Linked DNA regions of Homo sapiens: all the other regions are linked to region 1. The links come from fine-mapping of genetic effects on gene expression. A gene starts in region 1. Each other region holds a variant in brackets. All regions are shown on one strand. Distances are between the middles of the regions.

Evidence for each region.
Region 2: its variant is fine-mapped to the expression of CEP131 in sigmoid colon (GTEx, PIP 0.99).
Region 3: its variant is fine-mapped to the expression of CEP131 in whole blood (TOPMed, PIP above 0.99). The same link has a PIP of 0.9 or more in caudate, cerebellar hemisphere, cerebellum, cerebral cortex and putamen.

The regions. Positions count from the first base shown.
Region 1 is chr17:81,221,641-81,224,389 of GRCh38, forward strand. CEP131 (centrosomal protein 131) reads right to left here and starts at 1,325. Exons shown (of 26, transcript NM_014984.4): 1 at 1,129-1,325. RefSeq lists enhancers at 1-356, 357-1,026, 1,027-1,696 and silencers at 1,058-1,387, 1,548-1,917.
Region 2 is chr17:81,196,024-81,198,772 of GRCh38, forward strand. It overlaps CEP131 (centrosomal protein 131), which reads right to left. Exons shown (of 26, transcript NM_014984.4): 12 at 2,092-2,274; 13 at 1,689-1,865; 14 at 907-1,032; 15 at 678-803. Among named protein-coding and RNA genes, the nearest start is that of CEP131, 26 kb to the right of the region's middle. The variant A/G (reference allele first, on the strand shown) is at 1,335.
Region 3 is chr17:81,188,833-81,191,581 of GRCh38, forward strand. CEP131 (centrosomal protein 131) reads right to left here. Exons shown (of 26, transcript NM_014984.4): 22 at 2,361-2,503; 23 at 2,075-2,252; 24 at 1,807-1,970; 25 at 1,083-1,143; 26 at 764-1,011. The coding sequence ends at 937. Among named protein-coding and RNA genes, the nearest start is that of AATK, 24 kb to the left of the region's middle. The variant G/A (reference allele first, on the strand shown) is at 1,017.

The DNA.
Region 1 (2,749 bases):
CTCAGAGGCCTTCCTTGAGCACCCATCACTCTTCACTCCCCATCCGGCTCGGACTCCCTTCCTGTGGCCGCACACAGTTGGTTTATGAATTGTGTGGCTCCTGAGCAACCCCAGCACCTGCAGGGAAAGGCACTCAGCTGAACCCGTAGATGAACGGGAGAAGCTGGCGCCAGGGACCAACCTCGAGAATTACCTCCCTGCCACGGTGGCCTCCAGTAGGCCAGCAGGCACCCAGCCTATCGCCCAAGGTCACCCTGGGCTTCCTTCAGCCCGGCACCCCACAGCAGGTCCCCCAAGGTCCCTTCCACGGAGCGATGGATACCCCTACTCCCTAGAGGCTGACCCTGCCACTGACCAGGTCCCAGTCCTCAGTTATGCACTTCCGGCTGTGCGGAAGAAACTTAACACCCTCCTCCTGCAGGGCACTGTCCACCCCTGGCTGGACCCATGCAAGCCCTTGGAGCCCAGGACTCTGCTCTCCCAGCCACACTTGCAAGCGGCTCTGGGATGGCGAACGGGGCCTCTCCATGGAAACCTCCAAGCCAGAAGAAGGGAGGCCTGGGAGGCCACTACATCTTGGATAAAACTGTGTCCCTCCCAGGACCTGAAGGGGCGGGGACTGATGACCAGCGCCAGGACCTGGTTCCCAGGGTGGGCTGACCCTGACCCTGACCCTGACCCTGGACAGAGAGGCCAGAGCCCACGCGCAGAGCAGAGCCCTCCACTTGTCCTCAGGGCAGCTCCCATCTCCCCATTTTCCCCAGGGCTTAAGGCAGCCGGGCCAGAGATGCCGGGACTGGACTCCATGTTGTCCTGGGGACCGGAGGGGAGTGGAGGGAGGTGGAGAGGGTGGAGGGGATGGAGGTGGGGACCCACACCCTCAGGCACGAGCCTGTCTTCACCTGCGCGGGCCCCGGACCTCCCTCACCTGTGCGCACCCTGGATCCCCCTCACTTCCCCCGGATCCCGCCTTCAATTGCGCGGGCACCAGATCCCCCCACTCACCTGTGCGTGCCCCGGATCCCCATCACTTCATCACTGGACCAGGGCCTCCCACCTGCGCGGGCTCCGGACCCCTCCAACCTCCGTGCGCCCTGCAACCCCCTCCCTTGCCCGGGCCCCCCTCACCTGCGCGGGCCGGGGGCGCAGCCGCGAAGCCTGCCTGGCGCGCGGGGCCTGCAGATTCGGCCGGCGGGGAGGGGATGCGGAACCAGTCGCGCCCAAACCTCGGGTCGGCGACCTGGCGCCCCGCCACCCCCAACACTGCCCCGAGGCCCGGTGACAATGAAGCGGCCGGACGGCCGGGGTGAGCAGCGGCGGCAGCTAGCAACCAGCCTGGCACCACCTCCCCAGCCCGTCACGCCGGCCCGCCTTTCCTGCGCGCGCCGACTCCGGATTGGCCCTTCACGCTCCCGCTCAGGCCGTCCCGGGAGCTCATTGGGCCGCTCGGCTGTCCTTCGGGAAGTTCAAGCGTGGGAGGAGCGGCGGATGGCTGAGGGACGCGACTACAGAGAGCGGCCGATTGGACGCGGCTGGAAAGGGGCGGGTCATATAGGGGGCGGGGGACCGAGGGCGGCGGGAGGAGCTGGCCGGGCAGGGGCGGGGCCCCAGCGGTTGTGGGCGGGGCGTGAGGTGGGGGTGTGATGGGCGAGTAGGGCGAGGCAGATGTGGGCGGGGCAAGGCAGGTGTGGGCGGGGCACGCAGGGCCTGGGGAGGAGACACCAGGGAGGGCGCGAGGAGCACGCGGCCTCGGCTCGGCTCCCCGACACCCCCAGGCCGCCGCACTCCCGCGGCCCGGGGCTCCCCCAGTGTCCTAGGCCGCTCTGTCCCCACCCACGTGCGCGACTCCCCTCGTTACTCAGTACGACTGCGAGGGCGTGTGGGCGCCTTGCTAACCTCCCTGACCTCCTTCCCTTCGCGCTGCTTTGTTGTTTTTTTTCCTTCTCCAAAGTTTTAACGCTGCGCCCCGTGCGTAGCCGCTCTGTGACTCCCCCTCTCTCCGGGAGCCCTGGGGATTCCGCCCAGGTCCTCTCCAGGGAAGCCATCCTTCCCCTAAAAGTCACAGCACACTGGTCTCCCCTGCCCCCGCTTTTTAAAAAGTCCAGTGCTCTGTAAAATAAAAAGTTTGGTTTCAGTAAAATCCACATTTTTTGGTGTGCAGTGGAGTTGTGTAACTTTAGTTACAGAACATTCTCCCTCCGGATCCCGTACCTGCTGACTGCTGGTGGCGGCTGCTCAGTTCTCTCTGTTCTCCATCCCTAGAGGCAGCCTTTTCCAGAATGTCACACAAAAGGGATGTCGCGCAGCGCGCCTGTGGGTCTGGCTTCTACCACTTCGCATTTTGAGATTCATGCTGGTTCCTCTTTATTGCTGAGTGGTATCCTGTAACCGGTGTGAACCACCGGTTCAGATGGTTTTATTTATTGATGGTTTTATTCATCAAATGAAGGACGCAGAGATTGTTCCTGGTGCTTGGCAATTATGAATGACGCTGCCATAAACATTCACTCATCGGCTTCTGTGTGGACACAACTTTTCATTTCTCTTGTGTAAATACCCAGGAGTGGGGTTGCTGGATCAAATGATTGTTTATAAGAAACTGCCGGCCGGGCGCAGTGGGTCCCACCTGTAATTCCAGAACTTTGGGACACTGAGGTGGGCGGATCACCTGAGGTCAGGAGTTCGAGATCACCCTGGCCAACATGGCAAAACCCCGTCTCTAGTAAAAATACAAAAAAATTACCCGTGC
Region 2 (2,749 bases), 26 kb before region 1:
TCCCAGCCTCCGAGGGAGGCTAACAGCAGCCCTCCCCTGGGGCTGCCCCTCCTAGGTTTGTGGATGGACCCTGGGGCCAGTGGGGGGGCACGTGTGCAAACACGGGCCCAGGCCTGCATCCGCCGTCCTGTCCTCAGCTGGGGGACCCGGCGAATGTCAGAGAAGCCCCAGCCCACCCCCTGCAGTGATGTCAGGGTCTTCCTGGGATGAGGGTAGCTCTGCCGAGGCCATCACCCAGCCCTGGAGGAGGCTCACTGTCTGCCAAAGGGTGTCAGGACCACACCAGCCTCACTGCCGGCCCCAGGCCAGACCCCAGGTCAGGACACACCTGTGACAACTATCAAGCAGCCCTGGAGGCCCCTATTCTCACACACCCCAGACCAACTCTAGGTCTCTTCTCTTCAGAACAGGAGCCAACCGGGGCTGCGACTGAGCTGAGGGGCCGGCAGGACACCCCACTACACTCACACGGGGCGGCTCTGGATAAAGACAGGAGTGCCCTCTCCAGGGCATGCATGGCTGGGAATGGCATGGGAAAGGCTTGGAATGCGTCCAGCGGACACCCGTGTGACACCCAACAGAGGAAGAAGCTCCCTGGCAGTGGGAAGCCCCTGGCTCTGGAAGTCTCCATGAGCCACGCGCTGGGTCCGGGCCTCTGCGCTCCCCGGGCCGCTCACCTGGTCAATGAAGGCCAAGTGCCGCTGGATGGTGGCCTCGTAGTGCTCCCTCTGCCGCTGCAGCTGCCGGCTCAGCGCCTTCTCTGTCTCCTTGACCCGCCGGGCCGTGAGGTCTCGCTGCTGCGCCTGCAGGGTGTGGGCAGAGGAGGGAAGCGCTAGGACCGGTGGGCCTGGCCTCAGCAGGTAGGAGGCTAGCAGGGCCCGGGATTAGCAGTGCCAGCAGCGTTACCAGCGCTCTCTGCAGCAGCAGCATGGCCTGCTTCTTCTCCTCCACCTCCAGCTTCAGCCGCATCACAGACGTGCTCACCTCGGACCCCAGCTCCAGGGGCCCCGGCCCCGCCTCCGGCACCCACCCCTGCAGACACAGCCGAGCGTCAGGCGGAAGCGGCAGAGGACGGGGGGCAGCCAAGGACCTGACACGATGCCCCTGCGGCCCTGCCCTCTGGGGACAGAGGGGCTGCTGCACACGGGAGCCCGTGGGAAGCCGGAGGGCAGGTGGCAGGCGGCCCAGCAGAGGTCGTTTTCATTGCTCAGTACAGGAAATGGGGGCCGTGGCCTCAGGAATAAAAAACAAACCATTTAAAAAGTTCTATGCTGCCCAGCTTCCTGCCCTGTGACAATAAAGTTCACGTCACTGCTCCATTTAGCCTGGCCGCT[A/G]GTGTTCACCCAGGACAAACCAACCCAGAGGACAGCAGGGCTCCAGAGGGCTGAACTATCCACACATATGGGCTCGTGGAGGCAGCTCGGGGCAGCGGGTAGGTGGGGGCAGTATGGGGAATGCGGGCCCTGCCACCTCCACCCTGAGAGACCCGTGGGGGGTGCTGCATAACTAGGTGGGTACATGGTGAGGGACCACCTCCTGCTGGGGGCCGGGTGGGGGCTGGCGAGAGACCTCCTCCCCCTGGGGGCCAGGTGCGGGCTGGTGAGGGGCCTCCTCCCCCGAGGGCCAGGTGCAGGCTCGTGAGGGGCCTCCTCCCACTGGGGGCCGGGTGCGGGCTGGTGAGGGGCCACCTCCTGCTGGGAGTCCAGCTGGTCCTGCCCAGACTTCTCCATCTCGTCCAAGAAGCTCATGATGCTTTGTAGCTTGGCCTCCGATAGCAGCGTCCCATCCTCAGGAGGTTCGGGGAACGCACTGAGTTTTCCAAATTTCTCCAAGTTGTCAGCTGTCAGAGAGCTGGCGTCATCCTCCTGTGGGACAGGAGCCCAGCATCGGGGGCTGTCAGGGCAGCCTGAGGACTTGGGTTCCCCAAAGGCAGAGGTGGCAGCTGAGGCTGGGCTCTGGGAGGGAGGGTTGTGACTAAAGCCAGGAGGAGCCTGTGGCATCCCCATTTTCCCAACCCCCACAGCCACCGCATGCTCTGTGTGAATGGCGTGGGTGGACAGACTGTGCAGGGCGGGCGCACACCGTGGTCACCTCGCTGGCCCAGGCGTATCTGCCCCTGTGATGGGTCCTGGGGCGGGGCAGCACGTCCGGCTCCTTCTCCAGCAGCTGCAGTGTGTGCAGCAGCTCCTCCAGTGGCCCCCTGGACTTGGCGCTCCCCCTGCTCGGGGCCATCATCTCCAGGTTGTCCCCAGCTGCATCCTGGGCAAGAACGTCCTGCAAAAGAGCAGGGAGACAGATGCAGCAAGGCTGCTGGTAGCTGAGAGCAGCCCCCACATAGGAGGCCAACCGCAGAGCCCCAAAGGCGCCGCGGGAGCTCCCCAGTCCCGACATTCAGCCCCAGGAAGGTGAGGCCAGGGCTCAGACCTTCCCACCCGGTCTCTGCAGCTGCTCAAACCCAGAGCAGCTCCAGCCACCAGGGGACTCCTCCCAGTGCCCCACTCCAGGAAAACAGGAGTGCAGCCACCTGGCCCCACCATTGAGCAGCCTGGGAGCCTTGGCTGTCAGGTCACCCCTCAGAGCCGGAAGCTCCTCTTTTGTGGATGAGGATGCAAGGCCCCCCACCCCAGGACATCTGCAAAAACCCAACTGGATCCACCCCAGCAAAGGCTCCCCAAGAGGCAGCCAGCACCATGCATCAGAGCAAGAAGACACCTCCTGGGTGGCCTCTCTGAGCTTAAGTGGCCCCTAG
Region 3 (2,749 bases), 33 kb before region 1:
GTTCAGGCGCGGCTTTGGACCTCCCATCCCAGTGAGATGGCATCCAACACTCACTTCCTGGTCAGTGTAGACGGAGGTGGAGGGAGGGCTGCCCCCCTGAGGATTTGGGGCAGGTTCTGAACTGACCAGGCCAAGCTGACCTGGGCTGAGAACCAGGCTGGGTGTGAAGAGATGCTCTGGGCCAGTGGTACCCTCTCCTGCCTGGGACCTTCCCCAGTGCCCCCATCCTCATGGGTGGGCCCTGTCCATCCCCATTTCTTGAGAGCTCCAGACTGTCACACCTTGACAGCGGGGAGGGTAGGGCTTCCTGTCCCTCTGGAGTCTCTCCAGCCATAGGAGCACGCTGGCAGCCATGGGCTTCCAGCACCTGCAGGGCCACGGCGGGGCCCTCGGAGCTCCTCCCAGGGGGTGAGTTCTGCTGAGTTCCTCCTGCGCCTGGCCAGGAACGGGGTAGGGAATTCCCTGTGCTTGGGACTTCCAGGGTCCAGGGCAAGGCAGGGAACAGGAACTTGGGGGTTGGGTTGAATGCTGGGGAGCTGAGGGCTGAGTGCAGGGGGGCTGCTGGCTGAGTGCTGGGGGCTGCTGGCTGAGTGTTGAGGGCTGCTAGCTGGGGGGCTGATGGCCAAGCTTCGTGATTTCCTGGTCAGCCTGCTCAGGCTGCGGAGGGGAGTGGGAGGAAGAGAGCCAAACCCACGCCTGGCTGCTCTGGGGGTCTTGGGCAGCCTCTAGCCCAGGAGAGAAGACAAGGCAGTCACTCAAGGCGCTGAAAACAACGGCCTCCTTTACTGTTAAAATGCAGCCACAGGTGCTTAGCCGTGGGCATCTCAACCACCAGCCTCTGTGGGGGGCAGGTGGGCGTCCCTGTGGGCCTCTGGGCCCACGTCCAGCCTCTGTCCTCTGCCTTCCGTTCTTCGACAGTGTTCCCGGCATCCCTGGTCACTTGGTACTTGGCGTGGGCCTCCTGTGCTGCTCCAGCAGCTCCTCCAGGTGGTCGGCCCGCTTCACCGCAGCCTGCA[G/A]CACACCCACAGGGTCAGGCCTGCTCCCAGCCCCGAGGTCCAGCAGGGCTGGCCACAGGGACTCACCTCATGTTGTGTCCGGAGGCTGCTCACGGCCTCCTCCTTCCTCGCGAGGGCTGTCTTCACCCTGTGGGTAGTACATGGTAGGCTTCAGTGTGGCCCCCGCCCCATGTCCCCAGAGTGGCCTGCAGTGCACAGGGTGCACGGGGCAGCCGCCTGGTCAGCCTGGTCCCAGCCCTGCTGACCACGACTCCTGTGGCTGGCCCAGACAGCTGTCCAGGCAACCCACCTGCTGTGAGTCAGGACCCAACACAGGCCACTGGAGTATGACCCTGGCCACACCTGGGGAGGCCTGGTACCCAGATGGGGTGGGACACCTCGCCCACACCCACCTCTCAGCCTGTGGCAGCAGATGGCACAGGAAGGATGCAGGACCCCCGTGGAGGGAGCTCGCTGGGAACCTTACAGTGCCCCAGCTCTTTCAGCGCCTGTCCACCCAGCCCAGGGCCCCGGGAGCTGACTCCCTGGAGAACTCGCCAGGCCCAGACCCGACCCACTCGGGTGCCCCAACAGGGATGGCCGACACCCTAGACTAAGCACCAGGGAGGAAAACAGATCTAGGTCTCCTGGGCCCCAAACATGGAACCCACACCAGCCTCTGTCTACAGGGCCCTGTCTCTGCATCTCCTGGCCTTCCTCAGCCACAGCCTCCTGGGGCTTGGAGCTGCAGAGGTCCTGCCCGCTCCCCTGCCCCGCCTCCGTCTCCAGCCCTGCAGCCCCCGCCGCCCACCTCCGGTGCACCTCCTCCAGCTCCAGCTGCTGGCGGGCCTGCAGCGTGGCCAGCTCGGCCTTGGCCTGCCGCGTCTCCTCCTCAGAGGCTGCCAGCCGGTCCTCGAACTCCTGGCGGATCACCTGGGCCAGGTTGCTGCGCTCGCTAGAAAGCTGCTCGTTCACCTGGGTGGGCACAGAAGGCAGTGAGCCGGCTGCCAGCGACTGGCTGCGTGCATGCAGGAGGGGCCTGTGGGTGCCCACTGCCCACCTGACACCCGCCCACTCACCGCCTGCGCATCCTCCAGCGCCCGCTCCTTCTGCCGCACAAGGCCCTGCAGACGCAGATTCTCGCCCTCGGCCTCCCCAAGCTGGCCCTTCAGCTCCGAGCACCGCTCCTGAAGCTTCCGCTCCGACTGCTCCAGCTCGGAGAGCTCGGCCTCGTACTTGTCCCGTAAGCGCTTGATGCTGGAGGTGGGGGGAGGGCAGGGTCACTCCAGCCCAGTCACACACGGGTCCTTGCGCCTCAGCTCGTGGGCCTCCCCAGCTGGTGACCCAGCCATGGCGGGTCCTTACCGGCTCTCGGCAGCCTTCTCACTCTCCTCCTTGGCCAGCGCCATGTCGGCCTCCAGCCGGTGAATGACCAGCTCAATCTCCTTGTCCCGGCCTTTCCGGATTTCTTCCCTCAGCTCCTGTTCCCGGTTCAGCAGCCACGCCTCCTGGGGGGACATGCGCTGCCTGGGGGTTGCCACCCGGAGCCGGCCCGCGGGGCCAGGGCCAGCCTCAGGGGGTCCTGGGGGGCTCCAGGCTCTGAGCCACAGGGGAGCAAGGGGCCTTCCCCCTCTCCAGACCCCTGTCCAGGGGTGCGCTACGTCCTGTTGTCAGGACCCAGTGTGGGCATAGGCGTACCAGAGATCGTCATGATGCACAGCCCACGGTCCCCTCCCTCAGAGACCCACAGCCCA